Linked DNA regions of Homo sapiens: all the other regions are linked to region 2. Evidence: fine-mapped expression QTL. A gene starts in region 2. Each other region holds a variant in brackets. All regions are shown on one strand. Distances are between the middles of the regions.

Region 1 (5,147 bases), 48 kb before region 2:
CTTATCCTAAAATAATTTACTGTGCTCCGCTGGGCTCTCCACTTCTCACGTGTTCCTGATTTTCCCTTTCACTACTGTCCCACTGGCCAAAGCATCAGTGTGGGAGGCCAAGCCCACAGTCAGTGTGGGAGGCCCCACCAAAGGGTGTGGGGGCAGGGAGCAAACTGTGGCCTTTACTATCATCAGTCAACCATGGAAAGGGAACTGATATTTATTAAACACCTGCTATGTGCCAAATGCTTTACTTTTCATCTTATTTAAGCTTCACAACAATTCTCTGAAGTGCTGGCATCCCTGTCCCTTGATGAAGAAGCATCACTCAGAGACGTGGGTCACTAGCCCATGTGGTTAGCAGGTGCTGGAGTGGGGATTCGTACCTGCTGAGTTGGGGAGCGGGGCGGAGCCTGCCCCTCTGAGAGTGACTCTGAGTATGACATAAGTGAGTCACAGTGAGAATTACAGGAGATCAAACAGAAGCCTGTGAATGAAGCTACGAAGTGGATCCTGCTCCTTACTTAAGGGGGCATGGTCTCTCTCCAGGCCAACATGTATCACCAGCGATGATATCCTCTGGTACGCCAGTTCTATATTCCTCACCACTGGGGATGAAGAGAAAAAGGAGGGAGAAGGGGAAGCGATGTGATGCATGGGACCAGAGTCCCAGATGCTGATGGCCTCAGCGGTGGGGGCGTGTGAAAAAAACCTTTTCCTTTTTCCGTTTCCAATGTCAGGCTTTGCCCTCTGAGGGCTCACAGGCCACCCAAACCCTTTCCATGCTTTCACACACAGTTGAGGTTTTGTTTGTTTGTTTGTTTTGTTTCTTTTTTTGTTTTTTAACAATTTTGAAAGTGCTTACGTAGAGACACAGCTTTAGATGGGCCACATGAAAGGCCCCGTTCAGACAGCTCTCATCTGATACAAAGCCTCAGAATGCCCACTGACGTGGCCCAAACGGTGGTGCTCACTTGGGCAGGTGCATCTGAATTTCACAAGGTCCCCTGATGGAGGCGTCATCTGAGCTGAATTCTGGCTCAGAACAAAGGAAGTGCAAGTCAGGCCCCCCGTCAGAACTTCCGTCCGTCTTTCTGCATAGAAGGATCCTGCCTCCTGGGTTGTTGGTGGCTGTGTGGAGCCAAGTCAATTGCTAACTGTCACTGAAGACCAAAAAAAAATTGCAGTTTTCAAGTTCAGTGGACAGGGACTCAGAGGAAAGCAGGTGGGAGAGAAGAGCAGGAGCTGCTCACAGCAGCCAAAACAGCAGGATGGGATCTGCGCAGCCCAGGCCTCCAGTGCCAGACAGCCCTGGTGTCTCAGTGGCCGGCTGACCTCCTGAGGCCTGGCCACAGCCAGGAGCCCACATACCCCGCTGGGTAAGGCGCAGAGGCCTGCACACAGCCTCGGTGACCCCTCATCTTACACACACCCTGAAATAGAAGCACAGCAGGAAAGACCTGCTCAGCCGCACACCGCCTGACCCGGAGCCAGCCTGACGAAGCCGGAACTTCCCACTTCACCTGAACCCACCCGCCACCCGCCTGGCCACAGACTCACTGCCCTCTTTATCCCCAAATGAAAAGGGGTAGTTGTCTCGCTTGGTGCCCAGGGTGCCAGCTTTTTTACCCTTCTTCATAGGGCATATTTCTGGGCCTATCCTCTTTTTCTCCCAAAGTACCTAAGACAATGCTCCCTTTATAGGTCAGGGAAGGAGTATAGATCCTGCTTTCATTCTGTCTTCTTCCCCCAGGGCAAACAGCTTCACCCTCAGCTTTATGAATTCCTTCCTATTCTTACTTTTCTCCGAAGCTGTTTCTCATTGACCTGACGTCTCCTGACCTGTTGACCAAAGCACCATTCCACGTGTCCTGTGTGTGTGTAGCTCACTGTGAACTTGCTGTTAAGCTGAGGCCTGGCCCCGAATGTCATCAGCTTGCTGGTTACTTGCTGAGACAGGAGATGGAGGTGCTACAAGAGAGGGAGATGAAAGAGGAAAGGAGAGAGAGGTGGAGAGATGGAAATGACCAGGACGGGGAGGGCGGGGAGCAGAGCTGAAAAGTAGGAAGGAAGGAAGGTGCGAATATGTGCTGGGTGCTACCCTGGGGCCTGTATATATTACCTCACGTAGCCCTCACAACACACAGGTGACGTTCGCATCAGCACTCACATGTTTCGTGAGTTTTCAGAAAGGTTAGTTTGTCTGAGATCACTCAGCTGTGAGGTGGCAGGGACTAGATTCAAATTCAGATTTTTGGCTTCGATTTCAGGACTTTTTCCTTTCTAATCTTCTGCTCCCCCTGAGAGGGGACTAGAGGAGAGAGAAAATGAAGGGAAATAGAAGGGAAGTGGAGACCACCAATTGTTCTCTGGTTGCAAGCAACAGAAACTGATTCTAGCTATCTTAGATGGGAAAAGGTTTGATTGGAGGGGCGCCAGGTGGCTTTCAGAATCCAGTAGACTGTAGGAGAGCAGGGTCAAGAACCACAGTGTTCTGGGGTCTGGGCAGGAGAAATTAATTGACAGCTTACTTGAGATTCTGCCCCTGAAATAAATATGCTCCAAACATTTCCCCCACTCTCTGTGCAGGAGAGAATCCCAGGAAACAGTCTGATTTGTTGTATTGGGGTCACTTGCCTACCCTTAAGTCAAGGGAGCTAAGAACACCAACATGTCACATGA[C/T]GGAGGAGAGAGCTCCAACTCCCAATGCTGTTATCAAACAAAGGGGACACGGACACAGAGCACCCAAACCACAGATGACAACCACGCAGGAACTTTTTAGGTGCTGCCTGCAGGTATCAGGGGCTGATTCTATCTGCCCCAAACTGCATTAGGGCTGAGCCCCGCAGGTTGAGTCTTTCTCATGACATTGAAATGGCCACCATTGTCACCACCAGTTCCATCTGACAGAGACGGGCTGGGCCCCCACCTCTTCCAAACCTGGCTTCTGGGAGGAAGCATTTCTCCTCTCAGGAATTAGTCCTCATTCAAAAACTCCGTGCAGTAAGTTTGCAGAACAATGAGCAGCTTACAATCAACACTCTGGACACACTGTTTTATAAAGACTCCTCCTAGGGCAGTGGTCTTTAGAGTGAAACTTCTTGAGTTGGAATTCTAACACCATTACCAGCTGTAAGAGAGAAAATGCCCACCTCCTCTCTGAGCCTCAGTCTGTTCTGCTGCACAGTAGGGGGATAACGCGTACTCTGCCTCCATCTGTATGTTGTTCCATCAAATGAAATAAAAATTGTCATCAGCTTGTAAACGGTGAGAGCCATACAAGATACAGAGAGGCATTGTGGTCCTTTTCACTATTACCAAGCGAGGCCAGGCTGCTCTGGGAGTGTGGCAGGAGGCCGAAGGCGGCTGCACGCTGCCGTAACAAGAGCGGGGGTTGGAGGAGTTGAGGGTGAAAGTCCGGGCAATGGGGTCCTCTGTGCTTCCAGCTTGCTCTCTACTTCAAGCACTGTGAATAGATGAAACTCCACCACATCCTTTCACCCATTCCAAGGCCAAATGGCCCAAGGGCAGAGTTATACATTCAACCGGTAATTTGAAAAGCCCTGATTAGCCTCATCTAAGCTCTGTCTTCTTTACTGAGAACCCAACTGCTAAGCCTTTCCTGGCAATGAGGCTTCTTGAGGCTGAGCCTTCACAAAGCTGGGTTGTCTCCAAGTTTCCCTTTTTTTCCTTCCACAGGCTGGCACTGCACAGAGATGGAACCTGATGAAACGGCCCCATTTGAGCGCCTGCTGTATCGCGTTGGCTCTGCTTCCTGCAGCTGTGCTCCAAGATGAGCCTTTCAGACATCGCTCCCTAATAGCTCCATCTCCCCCAGTCCAGGAGGATGCGCATTCCTCTCCTCATTCACATGCACCACTTCAAGCCATCTGCACGCTCTACAGGGGACTTGCCGCCTAACATCCTAATGTGCAACCCCATCCAAATCCTCTGCTGGAATCTCACTATTTGCACCACTTACGCTCCTGGAGCGTGAAACAGAAGGGCCAGTCCTCTTGTCTCTTTATTCTAAGTGTTTAATACAGATTCCATGGACTTGGTCCATAACAATATGAGTGTGGTCTTACATCAGTCCTTTTACTAATTTCTCATCATCTCCCTCATCCTTGTCCTTTAGTGATTGTTCCAGACCTTCTCTTCTTATCCTCATACTCTCCTCTTTGGTATAGTAGTGAGTAAAAGAAAGAAAGAAAAAAAAGGTCCTAGTGTGACTCATATCTTCATGGTTTATTTACTACCTGGAGGATTTTTGAGGCTATGAACATTGTTTTATTTTTTGCTGTATCCCCAGCACCTAGCACAGATATGTGTGTGTATCAGGGCCTGTATGTATAAGCTCTCCGATGCTGCTATAACATGTAGTTCCCCAGTCAAAACTAAGTATTATTAAAGCAGCATTTTGGACAGGGTTTAAATTACCTGGCCCTTGACTTTGGGAATTGGAATTTTGTCTACTGCAGTCGCTTGGGGGACCTTCCAGTAGAGATTTATAATTAAAATGATATCATCCAGTAAGGCTTTTACCACAGGGCTTCTAAAAACAATAAAAGGATTGTCTGAGGCAGAATCTGCACTGTGGAATGAGAATTATATATGGTTTACTATAAAGTAAACTTAGGCATAATTATATGTTGTGAACTACAAACGCACAGTGGGATTCTGAGATTAATTTCCAATCACTCCTCACCACGGATTGGTGAAAATCCCAGCCAAGTGTGGTGAAGGAAGTGTCTCTGTTTCTGCCCGGTTTGGAGGTATTGTCTGTGCATTCGTTGCTGGTCTCATATCCCAACTTCCAGCTGCTGCTGCTCCACATCAGTCACTGCAGAGATGTTCAGTTTTTCATGCCAGGATTGCTCTGTCAGGATTTGTGTTAGTAATTGCAGAGACTTCGTAGGTTCTGTTTGCAATCATACGTAACTCAGATTTTAAATTAAAAAGGTAAAAATGGAATAATTTGGAAAAACATTCACAGAATATCAGAGTTAAAAGAAGATATTTAACACCATCAAGACCAGGAACAGCAAATAGTTTTCTGTCCTAGCTGCCAGCCCTATCAACACCGTGTCTAGGCCTTGCCCGTGAGAATGCAGTGATCATCTGGTGACGCTGGCCACAAGCAAGGGAGGAGGGGC
Region 2 (5,142 bases):
GTGCCTTCAGGGACTCAGAGGTAACCCTTGTCTCAGAAGATGCCGTTCTGTTCCTCACTGAGGCCCAAGATGCCTTTAAACCAGGCTTTATGGTATGTTTAGCAACTAAAGAAATCATGTCAAGGAAAAGCTCACACACTGAGACTCACTCGCACTTGTAGGCAAGTCACCAAGGCAGCTGGTGACCTAAAGTCAACCTTCCCCATTAGGAGACAGCAGGGTGAGCTGTGGCTGAGCACGGAAGGAGGCAGGGGGCTTCTCTGAGGCTAAGTGAGGTGCTGGAGATGGCTCCCACCAGCCCGGGGAGTTTGTGAGCCGGCTGTCAAACAGCCATTGATATAAACTAAATTATATAAGCTTACAATTAAATAAATTAAAAACAAAGGTAATAAATACTCAAAACACACTACCTCCTATTTGTTTTACTACATTTGACTGTTGCCCATGCCCTGGCAGTCACTGGCCTCTATGTACATATCTGCATGGTGGACACACTATACAATGATGTGCTACTGGGTATCTCTCCTAAATCACATTGAGCAACCTCATCTTGGTAACAGAAAAGGCTATGGTGGGAGTATTTACACCACTGTCATCAGCAAATATTACACAGAAGGGCTGAATTTATTTTTTGTGGTCAGGCTTAAGAAAGTGATGGGAAAATGCTAATAATGCAGATTAAACCTAACAGTGTTAGCTGTTATAGCATGAATAAATAGCACAAAAATTGAAGGAAATATTCTAGTATTAGAACAATATTATCTTATTTGAGTAACATCATTCCTGTCATTTAAAGAAGGAGGCCGGGCGCAGTGGCTCACACCTGTAATCCCAGCCCTTTGGGAGGCTGAGGCAGGTGGATCACAAGGCCAGGAGTTTGAGATCAGCCTCGCCAACATGGTGAAACCCCGTCTCTACTAAAAATACAAAAATTAGCCGGGCGTGGTGGTGGGCGCCTGTAGTCCCAGCTACTCGGGAGGCTGAGGCAAGAGAATCGCTTGAACCCAGGAGGCGGAGGTTGCAGTGAGCCGAGATTGCGCCGCTGCACTCCAGCCTGGGCAACAGAGCAAGACTCCATCTCAATAAATGAATAAATAAATAAAATAAAAATAAATTTTAAAAAATAAAGGAGTAAGGTTGGGACATAAATCTTTGTTGTTTCATTTGTTTCACGATCATCCTACTCTTTACAGAAAATATGGAGCACCGTTCTCTTTGGAGCTACCCTCATTTGTCATTTGCAACTATAGGTTGGCTACTGAGTTTGGCAAAAATCAAAGAAAGCCTTTGGTAAGAATCACTCGGGTAGACTGCATTTAAATTGAGAGTATTGTATCTTTATTTGTAAAATTGTGTGCAGTGTATCTTTTATTTCAATATTTAAAATAAGCATGTGTATATGTGTATATATATGTACGTAACACATATACATATATATACACATATATGTGTGTATATATACATATATATACATGTACACACACACATACATCACACATTTTTCCCTGGAGAGGTGAGTGTTGAGTATCTACCAGCTCGCAACTGCTCTAGTACATATGAAAATGAAGGCATGCCCTCAAAGCTGCATGTTGAGTGCCGTCTGCTTTCGGTCCCGTCATTATCTCTGTATAGACCCAGTTGGCAATCATGCATTTGGGGCCCTCTGCAAGTGTGAAAGGAAGGCACTAAGGAAAGACCACCTGGTCCTGGGCCTGCCTCTTCCCCTAGCACCCAGTAGACTGTGATACTCTGAGCCCAGGGGTTGGCAAAGTGTGGCAGATCACTGCAGATCCCCAAATGTCCCAGAGCTGCAAGGCAATGGGGTCCATCTCCCTCTGCAGACACGCAGTAGGAACTCTGGGACTCAGTTCTGTTTTATCCTAACTGGCCTTTATGAAATGACTGCAGTTTCTTGTGACGAGGGGTGGCCTCAGTGGTAAGGTAGTGGTGACCAGAACTCAGGGCACTGAGGGGGCGGGGTGCTGGATTTCACTTGTCTGTTGGCCCAGGGCTCTTTCCAACCCTTACAAACCATAGGCTGAGAATGTGGTGGAAACTAGGTCACTTTGCAAGAGATATAGGGAAACCCCTGAGCTCACCTAGTCTTCCTGTCATTCTCCATGGGAAGATCCAAGCCCAGAGAAGGCAAGCATTTGCCCCAGGCCACACAGCAGAGCCAGCACCGGAATCCCAGGTGCCTGCCTGCCAGATGGAAGGGCTTTCCATTGCAGCCCCTGCTAGCGTATAAACTTCTGGCTGGGTTATGCCAGAGGAGAGAGCAGTGGGGCTTGGCTCCCCCTCCCCCTCCCCACCAAGCTCTGAGCAGGGCTGTCTTCCCGCCCCTCAGCTCTGGCCCGGCCTGCTTTACCACTTTACCTGCTCCTATCACCACCGCATCATACTCAGGCTTCAGACCTCCCCTGGCTTCCGTGTTATCTCGTCTCCACGCCGGGAAGGGAGAGGCGGCCACAGCCTTGCAGAGACCTCGGCCACTTGCAGCCATTTCTGCCCCAGGCTGGGCCTTGCTAGGCAGGGAGTTTGCTAGCGATTGGCTTTTGTGCTGCCCTAGGCACGGGGTGGAGCAGGGAGGAAGCAGGAAGAGGAGGAGCTGCAGTCCCCCTCCAGGCCCCCTCCACCATGCATTCTTGGCCACAGGCCAGCCTCCTGCTGCCCTGGGGCTGTGCTGGGCCGTCGGGAGTGTTGCCTATTAACCAGGCGGTGTCACCTCCAGGATGCAGGGGATAATGGCAAAACTGACAATCCACTGGGGTTCCTATGTCAGGCTGGCATTGTGCTGAACCCTGTAGGCAAAACTCCCCATTTTACAGATGAGGGCGCTGAGGCTGCGGGGTTAGGGAATGAGTGGTGGAGGCAGAGTGGAGCTCGAAAGGGCCCTCTCCTCCCCTGTGCATCTACCTTCTCAGTCAGAACTGAAACGCCTGGGATGGCAAGTGCTCGTGTCAGACTCTGCTCCAACTCCATGCTGAGTCTGCCAGTGCAGAGTGGTGATGCCTCTACGCCCACAGGAGGCGCCCAGGGCGGCCATCTAGCGTCACCACGACCAGGGCCTTCAGACACCGCAGAGGCAGCTGTGTCTGTCGCTGAGGAGCACTGGAGTCCTCTCCTAAATGCTCAAACACAAACCCACAACGAGGGCTTAGGGGCAAGTTCGCTGTCTGTAATTCTCTGGTGTTTTAGTTTTGAAGGCCTGGCCAGTTCTCCTCTTTTGGCACCTTGCCCATTTTCCAAGAATCCCCAAGGATTCGAGGTCACATCTGTAAATACCTCCAGCTAAAGTTCTTTCTGACCCTCCCTTAGGCCTGCCTTGAATTAGGAGCCCCTTTGTTCTCTGCCCATTACTTAGCAGAGTGTTCCCCTAGGAGGAAAAAACCCCTTGGAGCGGAGAGTTCCTGCACTGCTCTGATATCGCAGTGTGACGGAAACCTGCTATTGGTAACGAATCTCAGAACTGGGAGAGTATGTGGAGATGATCCTAAGAGGGGGTTCCGAGGACCCCTCCACACACCATGGACAGTTACCCCGCATGTGAGCATCTCTGCTAAGATCTGATTCAGGATGTTCACTCCTGTGTTATTTATTATATAGAAAGATCAAGGGGACTGGTTAAACTAGACATATCACATCCAGCCGCTGCTAAAAACTAAAGGGAAATAGTAGGTGACAAAAGCAGGGGTCCTGAACAGTGGTGGGCTCAGGGGATTGGAGTTTTTTCCTTTATGTTTTTCTGTATTTTCCACAATCCACGCTTTTCATTGCCATTCCATCAGATGATGTTAAGGAGGAACACAGATCCAGTCACCTGAGGGGATACTTCCTCACTGCCACCTTCTCAGGGTTTAGACCAACATGTGGGTTCTAGTTCCCCCAGCCCCAAAGCTGTTCCCTGCAAGGAAGAGATCAGTCTTTGAGCAAATTTTGGCTCAAGACTAAAGACACAGAAGGCGAGGCTCCTGCATGCACAGCACACGGCCATCTGATCCTGTGCTGCAGTGGACGCTGACTTTCGCCACGCCGTCCTCTCTGGCCCAGCACCGGCCTCCTGGCCTCAGAGGAGCAGACACTCCCAGTCCCAGGGCTCTCAGGGTCTCTTGTCCCTGGGTCCATTCTGGGACAGGAACTTCTCGGTTGGAAGAGAGGGGCTGTACCCCTCGGGTGGTGGTTCTCAATCCAGGGCGCACCACAGAAGCTTTGAAAGACATCAAAGGCTGGGCTCCACGGCCGCCAAGGGAATCCAAATCTCTGGGCCAGGGCCAGGGGCTTGAGAACCCCAGCCCTAGGGCAGACGCCAGCCAAGCATGAAGGGGCTGGGACTTAGCAAGGGCTTATCAGCACTGACAGAAGGGTCTAGAAGCACTAGCATGTTGGGCTTCAGTGATAACAATGACCAACATTTATTGAGCACCTACCACACTGGGTAATCCTCACACCACCCTGGGACGGAGGTGCCATCGCTTTAAACGTGGGGAATAGAAGAAACTTGCCAGGAGGTGCAGAGAGGAAGTGGCAGCGCTGGAATTCAAACCCAGGCAAAGGAGCACCTTTTACCTGGGGTAGGAGAGAGCTTGCTGGGTGGGCTTCCTCCACGCAGGGAACAGCAGAGATGGGGCTTCCTCCCCATCTCCCAGGATAAAGGCAGAGGCAGCTCTGGAAGAGGAGCTGTTGCCACCGTTGTTTTACAAACAGGACCCCTGGGCTTCCCTCTTCCTCCAGAGAGAAGGATCTGGGGCCTTGCTCAGTACCTGACATGGAGGGTGGTCTAGGTGGGGTTTTAGAAGCCCTGGGGCCACCCTGGGCACTCTGCCCTATCCTCAGGATGGCCACTGCAGACAGGAGGCTCTCGTCATGGGGAACAGTGGCAAGCAAGGGTGGCTGGAGGACAGGATGCAAAGGCAGACTGCGGCCACCTTGGCCTAGAGCAGGGGGATACGGGAGGCCTCCCAGAGGCGCCGGGCCAGCTGGCCGGCCTGCTGCACCAGCAGGTCAGTGGGGATGACAGACAGGTGCAGGGCCAGCAGCTCGTAGCACCTGACAGCCTCGGTTGGGCGGTTCTTGCTGTAGTAGCGCAGGAGCTTCCTGGGGAGGAAGGGGAGGATGGGATTCAGGAGTGAGGCTGTGGCACTC
Region 3 (5,147 bases), 28 kb before region 2:
GGAATTTAGGGACATGGGTCTCTCACAACCCCACATTGGAATGTGGTGAGATGCCTCCACCAGGATGCATCCCCAGGCCTCCTGAAGGGGAGGTGTGAGCTCAACTGTGGGCTGTGGTCAGCCTGGTGGAGGCAGCGGCTGTGTGCTCACCTGTGCATGGATAATTCTGAACACAGGGCAGCTTATGTTGGGAGTTCCCTGCTCCCCTCCCTCTCTGCCACCTTCATTGCTTAACTTCCTCCTTCTCCAAGTCTCTGGCCTCCAGTGAGCCCTCCCAGTCCCCACAGGGTAGTGGGACTCCAGGTCACTCACCAGGATGAGCCCCACTTCCACAGAGATACAGGCCCTGGAGAGGGCAGCGGTAGCCAGAATGCAGGGGCACGGGGCGGGCGAAGTAGAGCTGGTCCAGGGACATGGCGCAGTGGAATATGTTCTGCAGAGGCAGGGCCACAGTCATCAGCACAGGAGAGTTACAGCCTTTCCTGCTCTGGCTGGGTTTCTTCCCCTCCCCTGTTCTTCAGCAAATGTTCTTCTCCTTCCAGGATATTTTCTTGGGTTTTAAAATGCAGAAAGGGAAGGAGATGAGACGGAATGGGCACATGCCCTGGGGCTGGGAGTGAAGTTTTCCAGAGGCTTTTTGAGGAAGAAAGCAGGGTGGGGAACACGAACTGAACGGGAAGGAAAAGAGGGTTTTGCTCTCTACTCTGCATCCCTCTCCCTCTGTTGGAAAAACAGAATTGTCTGACTTATTGTGGCTGTTGGCATGCGTCTCTGCGAGAACTCCCTTCTCTGGCCAAGGCATCCACCTGAGCCCGGACCCCGGTGTCCAAGCTCCAGCAGGATCACTGTGAATGGCAGACAAGGGGCAACGGAGCCCGAGCACGGTTCTGCCCCCCTGGCTTGGGTGAGACCAGCCCCAGGCTGAGAAGGGAGGCAGCATGGGACAAGCGAAGGTCAGACTCAGGGGGCAGGTCTGGACAAGAAGCCTGACGTCTGTTGGGCATCCTCACAGGAGTGCTCCCCCACTGCCCTCTTCACCTTTCCCCAAACTGAGGCCATCCTCTTCCCTCGAGTCTGCTCCTCCCCATCCTCCTGCATAAGTGAATGACACCACCTTCCTCCCCCTGGCCTCTGTGCCTACCCTTCACATCACCTCCACCCTGACTCCTATGTGCACACTGTCACCAAGGCTTCTCAAGTCTGCCCGCCCCATGCCTGCTGTACCCAGCCATTCCCTTCCTTCCCGCTGCCTGGCCTTCTTTCCTCTATACCTGGACCAGTGCTGTTCAGTGAACATGTAATGGGAGCTACATATGTAGTTTTTGATTTATTAGTAGCTACATTTAAAAAGTAAAAGCAGAGCCGGTTGTGGTGGCCCATGCCTGCAATCCCAGCACTTTGGGAGGCCAAGGTGGGAGGATCACTTGAGCCCCAGAGTTTGAGACCAGCCTAGACAACACAGGGAGACTCATCTCTACAAAAAAAAAAAAAAATTAGCCAGGTGTGGTGGTGCATGCCTGTAGGCCCAGCTACTCAGGAGGCTGAGGTGGGAGGATGGATGGCTTCAGCCCCAGAGGTCGAGGCTGCAGTGAGCCGTGATTGCACTACTGCACTCCAGCCTGGGTGATAGAACAGGACCTATCTCTAGAAGGAAGAGAGGGAGGGAGGGAGGGAGGAAACAAGGAAGGGAGGGAGGAAGGAAGGAAGGAAGGAAGGAAGGAAGGAAGGAAGGGCAAGCTGATGAAACTAATGTCAATAATATATTTTATTTAGCCCAATATATCCAAAATATTATAATTTCAACATGTAATCAATATATAACTTATTGATGAGATATTTTACATTTTTTTCTATACTGTGTGCATTCTACACTTGCAGCACATCTCACTTTGGCCTCAGATCTTTCTTTTGCTTTTTTTTTAAATTTTCTTTCTAGAGATAGGGTCTCATTCTGTTGCCCAGGCTGAAGTGTAATGACGCATCACAGCTCACTGCAGTCTCAAACTCCTGGGCTCAAGCGATCATCCTGTTTCAGCTTCCTGGGTAGCTGGAACCACAGGTACGCACCACCACACCTGGCGGGGTTTTTGTTTTTGTAGAGATGGGGTCTCACTACGTTGCCTAGGGTGGTCTCTGATCTTTCAAGTGCTCAGTAGCTGCAATGAGGCGATTGAACCTGGCCTCCTATCTGGTCTCCCTGTCTCCAATCTCTAGTTTTTGATAAATTGACAAGTCTGAGGATGTGCTGCTGCCTTGAGAAGGGGGTGCTCTCTCTCAAGAAAGTCAGATGGCAGAGCCAGCATAGTTGTCAAGGCAGAGGGCCACAATCCTGGTGACCTTCTCAGTGGGGGCTGTCCTGCCTGTGTTTCTGAGCCCCCACTAGGGATCCCCCATTCCCTCGGTTTGACCGCTTCTCTGCCCTCTCTCAGCCGGGGTCCCTGCCACTGTCCTCCCTTCCTGATGAAAGCTGAGTATGGAGGGACAAGATAAAGCAGAGAGGTCATAGCCAGGAAGTGAGGGTGCAGAGGGAAGGCTATGGTGAGAGACCCCCTAGGCTTATACATACCCCTCCAGGAAGCCCGAAGATTCTCTCCAAATCTGGTGGTGTGAGGATGTCTCTGCCAACCACAGAGTCCTTGAAGCCAGGGGCATAGACCTCGATGCAATCAAACACTGGGGTGCCAAAAACAGAGAAATGAGATGGT[G/A]TTAGGAAGAAGAGGAGGCACTATGGGTGTACAACTTGGCAAATTTACTAACAGTCATTAAATTACACACAGAAATGGGCTTATTTTATCATATGCAAATTATACCTCAATAGGTGAAAAACAAAAATCAGTCCACAAGCAAATGATTAATTCATCCCAAAGATGCATGGGTAGGCCAGTCCAGTCCCCAGTTTTCCCCACTTCCCTACCCCAACCTTAAACACGAAGCTGCTGATCTCCTTTTGCATATGCAGCTTTTTTCACCTCTTCACTTTTCTCAAGCTGTTTTTTTTTTTTTTTTTTTTTTTTTTGAGACGGAGTCTCACTCTGTCACCCAGGCTGGAGTGCAGTGGCGCAATCTCAGCTCACTGCAACCTCCGCCTCTGGGTTCAAACGATTCTCCTGCCTCAGCCTCCTGAGCAGCTAAGATTACAGGCATGTGCCACCACACCCTGCTAATTTTTTTATGTTTTTAGTAGCTACGGGGTTTCACCATGTTGGTCAGGCTGGTCTTGAACTCCTGACCTCGGGTGATCCGCCTGCCTCGGCCTCCCGAAGTGCTGGAATTACAGGCATGAGCCCCCACGCCTGGCCTGATCAAGCTGTTTCTCTTGCTTGGAATGCCCTTTGCTGCCTGGCCAGCTCCTAGTCATCCTTGGAAACCCAGCTTGACCATCCCTTCCTTTGAAAGCCTTCCTTGTCTCTCTGGCTCATGCGTCTCCTTTGGTTCGTGCAGTCAGCTGTGCTGTAATAAAAGGTTTCTTAATTAGTCTCCTCCATCCCTTGCTAGACTGTGAGCAACTGGAGGGCAGGAACTGTGTCTTCTTGACTTTCTTAGCCCAGTTCCTGACCCCTGCAGTCAACTATGTTGACTTGAGGTTCCCTTGACTATTTCCTCCCTTTGGAATGGCACCTGCAGTTGTCAATCCTGAATGGGGCAGTGAGGAGGAGCAGGCCCAGTTGGGTCGCATGCCCGGCTGTGGCTCTGGAGGCAGAACGTGCAGCTGTCTTTACCTCTGTCTGCATAAGCGTCTCTCTCCTGCTCGTCCCAGGCCTTGCCTCCAGCCAGCGTATAGGGCATGTACTGAGTGAAGAGGGAGACTACATGGCAGCCAGGGGGAGCCAGGGTGGGGTCCAGCGAGGAAGGGATGCAGAGCTCAATCACAGGCCTGTGCGGGCAGGGAGGAGACGGCAGGTCTAAAGAGCAGCAGTGCGGAGGGTAGGGCATCCGAGATGACTTGGGACACAGTGGAGGCCCTGAGATGACACCAATTCTGGGCGATTGTCGCTCTACAGCCACAGTGGTTGTCCACCTGCACGGGCTTAGCGGCTGCTAGCGTGGTCCAGAGCACCTGTGAGGAGCTCGCCTGACCCCAGACCCCCGAATGCATGGCCTGTCCTTGCCTGCCTTCATCACACGCTGTGCTCTAACCACAGCTCCCAAACGCAAATGTCTCGAAGGTCCACACAGACAGTGGGAGTGTGGAAAGGGGCCAGGCCTAAGACAGCAGGCGCCCAAGCAGCCAGATTTCAGCCAGGCTTTAGTGGCCTGACTGTCTTTTCCAGAGCAGACCAATGGAAGACAGAGCTGCTAGGGCTGCCCCGAGCCCCAGCAGAGCTGTGACCTGCTTCCCACCCCACCACCTTTGCCTGCCACACCTTTTCTACCTGGAGCATGTTCTCCCTCTGATCTCCAAATATGAGTCTCCTTCAAGGCCACGGGAAATGCCCCTTCTCCCTGCGTCCCTCAGCTGCAATGTTCTCGCTGAACTCGGATGTCCACCAGGGATCTCAAACATCCCCTGTTCAAACCCCAATGCCTGATTAGCCTCTAAAATCTGCTCCACCCCCACCGCCTCTTCCTCTTTTCAGTAAATGGAGGCATCATTTCACAGTCGCTCCTTTTTTTGACCCACATCCCACTCCCTATCCAACAGAAAGTCCTGTTGGCTTCACCTTCAAAACATACCCAGTCTTCCAACACTTCTCATCACTTCCCCTGCCCCCACCCTTGTCCAAGCCACTGTCCTCTCTCCCTTGGATTCTGCAACAGTAACCCATTGCAACAGATGCCTTAACTTTTTCTGCATACAGTGTCCAGGTTGGTCTTTTTAAAGCATAAGGCAGGCTCTGCACAAACTTTCCTGGAGTAAGAGCCAGGGCACTTGACAAGACCCAGCACCATCCGAGACCCTTCATTCCCAGGTGCTCTCTCTCCAGCCACTCTGGCCTCGTCCCTGTGCCTCCTATACAGCAGCACACTCCTGCCCCAGGGCCTTTGCACCTGACCTTCCCTCTGTCTGGACGTTTTTTCCCCAGATACCCATAAGATCTGTATTCTCACTTCCTTCCGGTCTCCGCTCAAGTGCCACGTTATTAGAGAAGCCTTTCCTCCCCTTCCCTGCCTATTTTTCTCCACAGTGCTCATCATCAGTGCTTACT
Region 4 (5,147 bases), 42 kb before region 2:
TAAACACAGGATCATCAGACTAGAGGAAAAAAGTGTTTCACTGGAAAAAGCATCTTTATCCTTTCTGGAGTAAGAAAGGGTTAATATTGTGTATTATGTGTAGCTATATCATTATGTCTCTCTCTTTTGGTGTTTTTGTTTATCTATCAGGCACTCAGAAATATGAACAAAATTTGCACTCAGAAGCCGTAACCATGGATAATTTTTGTCTTTTGGCCGTTTTTATTACATCATTCCTTCCTGTTTATAGCAGCAATATTAGAAAAGAGATAAACAGAAGTAAAATAACATTTATAATTCTCCCCTGGATAGATAACATTTGGCGCTTTCTTTCCAGACAATTCAATATGCAGATAGACACATAAGTGCATTTATTTTATAAAACTGGGATCATACTCTGCATCTGGTGAGTATTTATAAAGATCGACCTTGCCCTGGCTGGTGCCATCCCAGTCCCTGGGGGCTTGTGCTCGCCTCTGGGTGGAAGTTCACAGGCAGGCAAATCACAGAGCTGCAGCTCAACCAAGTCTTTATGTTGCCTCTATAAGATGTTAAAGGTAAAACAAGGGAAGGTATACCGTGCTCAGTTTCTGCAGAAGCAGGCCCCTTCCCCTGTAATCTGATGAGCTCTTTGCTTTTATCCTAGAAAAATACAGCAAAGGTCAGGATGGCCCATCGGAGCTCTCGTCCTTGCCAAATGGTGTGTGGACAGGAAAATGTCAAGTGTCTCTGCTGGAAGCACTTGACCGGGAAGAGGCATTCATCCTCCCAGCACCCTCAGGGACAAGGGGTGCCAGCCGGGCTCCCCTGCCCTCCTGTTGCATGACACGGTCTCTGATACTGGGCCACCCGCTCCATGCCCGAGTTGCGTCCCCTCCCAGGGGCACACTCTCTGATGCTACTAAGGCAGGCATGGAGGAGACATGGCAAAGAGAAACCAGAGGATCTGTACTTTTCCCTGAGGCTTTTGCTCCCAACCAGCTGCAGAGAGAGTGTGAGAAGGAGAGTACCCAGGCCAGGCACGGGGAGCAACTGCGAGTCTCTGTATTTGTCTTCTGGGCTATTATGACAAAGAACCACAAATTGGGTGGTTTAAATTTATTATCCCACAGTTCTGGAGGCCAGAGGACCACACTCGAGGTGTTAGGAGAGCCACACTTCCTCTGAAACCTCCTGGGGGGTGGCGGGGGGATCTTTTCTTGCCTCTTCCATGGTCACCCCAGACACCCTTGGCTTGTGGCAGCATCCCGCCCATCTCCACCTCCACTTCACACAGCCGTCTTCTCCCTGTGTCTGTGTCTTCATAAGGCACTGTGTGTGTGTGTGTGTGTGTGTGTGTGTGTGTGTGTGTCCCAACTTCCCTCATTTTATAAGGACATGATCATATAGGATTAGGGCTCATCCTTAGGACTTCATCTTGACTCCATGTGCAAAGACCCTGTTTCCCAACAAGGTCACGTTGATTGGTACTGAGGGTCAAAACTTCAACATGTCTTTTTGGGGGACACAATTAGACCCTAACAAGCCCTATGAGGGTTCAAGAGGACCAGTGCTCTTTCACTATGTCAGATGTATGTGGAGGGAGTGACTAAGACAGACAAACTATTTTAAAATCCTACCTCTGCCCCCTAACACACCTCTCCAGCCCTCAGAGAACCTTCCTTGGAGGACCCATGGCACCTGTAGCTTTGGAAAAGTCACTTGACTTCTCGGGGCCTCTGTTTTCTCATTTATTAATTGAGCTAATGCAGTGACTCTCAAAGTGGGACCTGAGTATCATTCTGATGACTATGAAGTGACCCAAGCACGCAAATCTTTCCTGTGGTTCCTCCAGGTGGGTCACAGAGGTGGCCCCCAGACTTTACTTCTTATGTACAAGTAAAGCTTTTAACCCACAAAAATTTGGTATTCATAAACTAAAATTAGTGTTCCTGGGATTTACTGAGGACTCCAATTTGTTATTCTACACTATACTTTACATAGTTGGAATTTCCCCAAGATTTGGAAAAACGCTGTTTCGTTAGCTCTTCAGCAGTTATTTTGAGTTATCATGGTTTTCAACCGCTTTTATTCATACTTTATATTTATAAGTTACTATTGGTTTTGTGCCCTCATTATCCATTGAGTCTGGCGAGAGTTTGGGGTTGTCCTAGAATGGGTAGTAATAAGTATTTACTTTGATAATTTTTGGCTTTTATTATAAAATTGTGCAATTTCTAGACATTATATGTAAATGAATTGCAGTTGAATAATTCATCACTCATGTACCCCTACTGCTAAGGGAGGTGTATACATGATCCCTTTATATTTTGCTTGTATGGTGGTTTGCCCAGGACTGAGAGGTTTGCCGGAATGTAGAATTTTCAATGCTAAAGCTGGGAGAATCCTGAGCAAACTCCCACGGTCGGTCACCCTATTATAGAAGGACACTTCATTGGTGGCTTCCTTGCCGGTGAATTTGTGCTATTTTTTTTTCATCACTTTCGTCTTGCAATCAAGGTTAGCATAATAAAATTAGTAGGGTTATTTTGAGATCATGGGGCGTTCATTTATAATATAAAATCAAGTGTACAATGGCAGATTTTTCTTTAACATAAATAGGAAGTGAACCGTGTATACTGCCTGCTCAGCAGGTTTAGTGCAATATGTCTGTTTGGTTCCTCTGCGATCCTCTTCTCCTTCCCATAAGCCCCACACCTATAATTACCAAACTCAGGAGAGAGGGGGAACTGGTGAGACGTTGTGTCCTTTGGCCCCACTCAAGTGGATATAGTCAAAGAAGTTTAGGAACCCCTGAGTTAAGGACTCCTAGACTGCCCTACCTCTTACAGCTTGAGGCTGCAGATCCACCCTGACCGTGCTCAAAATCCTAAGCCAATGCAGAGTCAGAAGCAGCTCAGAAGCTTCCCCGGAGGTCCTT[G/A]CTGAGAATTCCCTAACCGGCAGGCAGTTCCTCCCGCCCTAGGAAGATTTTGTGTATAGCCTCCTTTGCATAGTGTCCGCTATGAATTCTCTTCTCTGGCTCCATTGCATGACAGGAAGGCAGGAGAGGAGGACAGAAAGCTGCTGCTTATTTTCAAGCTTATCTCCAGCTGTCAGAACTCTCATTAGGGGCTTTTTGCTTTGGACTTAATTTACCTTAGTCCTCACAGCAATGCTGTGATGTATGACTGACTCTACTTTGTAGATCTGGAACCCGGCTGCCCTGACCTGGCTCACCTCGAGCCCTGGTCTCCCCTCCATGCTCCCTCAGCCCCTGAAGTCCCAAGGAACCCAGGACTCCACTCACCTGAACAAAGGTCACTTGAAAACTGGGAAAGGGACAGAAGCTTTAAAAAGCCCAAACGAACAAACAAGAGGTTGACAATTTAAAAATAAAGCCAACACAAACTCAGCCTGGAATGGAAGCTCCTGATGGAGTCATCCTTAGAATTCACCACCCGCAATTTACCCCAAATCCTGGGTGACCCCTCCTCCACTGCTCAGACTGTTCTTAGGTACAGCTGCTTCACACTGCATCGTGGCCCTGTCATAGATGACTAAGCCATCAGTGGGAGGCATCTTTCCCTACATACCATCTCTTTTTCCCGGCTCAGAGTGTCTTTTCTAAACCATGTCCTTGCTTTACATTTCCAGGGGGTCGTCCTTAACAGTGGGTAGGTAACCCTGTGGTGACCTGATTCCTGCTCAGCTGTGAGCTTTTTCTGTCCTCTGGTGGGGGACAGACACTCAGCATTCCAGACAGGGTTAGTGGTGGGACTTCTATTTATTTAACTACTAATCCTACTTATGTGAAATTAATTTGCTCTCCTATTATAACTCACCTTGCTTCCTGCCCTGACCGTCTCCTGTAATTGACACCTGGCTGCTCCATTGTGCTCCTGCTTCCTGGGCTAAGGGGCAGCGGTTGGAAGCCAAGTCTTGGAGTGACTCACATTAGGAGGCTGCTCTATACAGAAGAGAGGTTTGCTCATTATAGACTGAGGAGGGTTACTGTAAAAACAGCGGTGGTTTTTTTTTTCTCCTAATAACCAGTTCCCCTTTAGGCTAGCCCTTTCCAAGGAAGTTTGTGTACTATTATTAAACTTCTTCCTAACTCCAAATATGGGCTGCTCCAGTTTCTGCAGCGTGCAGATGAGTCTCTGGCTTCTGTAGTAGAAATCCAGGCCCAGGTCCCCATCTGCCTCGGTCCTTGATGAGATGCAGGTCATCCACAGTCTCAAAGCAGGTAGAGGGGTCCATGCTGCCCCAGGGGACAATACCTACAAGGTGTTACAAACACCTCCAGCCAAAAACAGGTGCTGCCACTAAAGCTTCCCAGATCCAGGTTCCACAGCCAGGATCCGTCTTCTGTCTGTGGCAGAGGTGAATGAGGAGCTGTTTGCATTGAGGCTGCAGAGAACATGGCTGTATTATGGAGATGAGAAGGAGCCACGCTGGCCTCTGTTCATGGCCCTCCACTGAGCACCTGGGCTTGGCAGACAGAGGGGTGTAGTAGTCTGAAGATCTGGCTCTAGCCTCCAAGTGAGAAGCTCCCACTCCCAACTCATGTCCATATCTCAACTGCTCATTTGAGTCCTTGGGAGAGGGCGAGGGGAGGTGGGGAGGAGGAAGCCCAAGAGTTTGTCCCCTGGCCTCTGCCAACACTGCAAATGTGGCCACTTTAACAGGCTAACAGACTGGACGTCCTCCCATGTGTGTAAAATCCCCATACCTCCTCCAGCAAACTCCATGTTGGCTGTAGAATGAAGGCCACCTTCTGCCCGGCATGGCATCTGCAGCTTGACCCTCTTATCCGGCCTTATTCTCGCCTTTGCTCTTCACAATCCTCATCCCGTCCGACTGTGGCTCTGAACTCTCTGCCCATCCCTCCATCCCACCGTTGTCACATGGTGCCCAGAAGACCCTGAATGCCCACCTTATTCTTTTCACTCATCATGTCTAGTGCATCCTTGACCCCACTCTAGCTCAGTCCCCTCTGCTGTGAGAAATACTTCCTGACCCTACCAATTAACAGGCAGCTTGTCTCTCCAAATTCCACTAGTGTGCTCACACAGATTCATGCAGCTAGAGTTGTTAATAATTCTTATATGAGTGTTCTTTGTCGTCCTCCACTAGACTGTAAATGCTTTGCAACAAGGAACCATTCC

The links. PIP is the estimated chance that this variant, and not a neighbour inherited with it, causes the effect.
Region 1: its variant is fine-mapped to the expression of PYROXD2 in whole blood (TOPMed, PIP above 0.99).
Region 3: its variant is fine-mapped to the expression of PYROXD2 in blood mononuclear cells (TOPMed, PIP above 0.99).
Region 4: its variant is fine-mapped to the expression of PYROXD2 in blood mononuclear cells (TOPMed, PIP above 0.99).

Annotation. Positions count from the first base shown.
Region 1 is chr10:98,364,505-98,369,651 of GRCh38, forward strand. It overlaps LOC105378449 (a long non-coding RNA gene), which reads left to right. Exons shown (of 3, transcript XR_001747305.2): 3 at 3,691-4,064. Among named protein-coding and RNA genes, the nearest start is that of MIR1287, 28 kb to the right of the region's middle. RefSeq lists an enhancer at 3,496-4,114 and a silencer at 3,648-3,942. The variant C/T (reference allele first, on the strand shown) is at 2,674.
Region 2 is chr10:98,412,633-98,417,774 of GRCh38, forward strand. It overlaps PYROXD2 (pyridine nucleotide-disulphide oxidoreductase domain 2), which reads right to left and starts at 2,550. Exons shown (of 16, transcript NM_032709.3): 1 at 2,377-2,550. The coding sequence starts at 2,503. HPS1 (HPS1 biogenesis of lysosomal organelles complex 3 subunit 1) reads right to left here. Exons shown (of 20, transcript NM_000195.5): 20 at 3,566-5,094. The coding sequence ends at 4,932.
Region 3 is chr10:98,384,635-98,389,781 of GRCh38, forward strand. It overlaps PYROXD2 (pyridine nucleotide-disulphide oxidoreductase domain 2), which reads right to left. Exons shown (of 16, transcript NM_032709.3): 13 at 3,720-3,874; 14 at 2,567-2,673; 15 at 313-433. Among named protein-coding and RNA genes, the nearest start is that of MIR1287, 8.1 kb to the right of the region's middle. The variant G/A (reference allele first, on the strand shown) is at 2,706.
Region 4 is chr10:98,370,832-98,375,978 of GRCh38, forward strand. No RefSeq gene overlaps it. Among named protein-coding and RNA genes, the nearest start is that of MIR1287, 22 kb to the right of the region's middle. RefSeq lists enhancers at 3,969-4,470, 4,471-4,970. The variant G/A (reference allele first, on the strand shown) is at 2,921.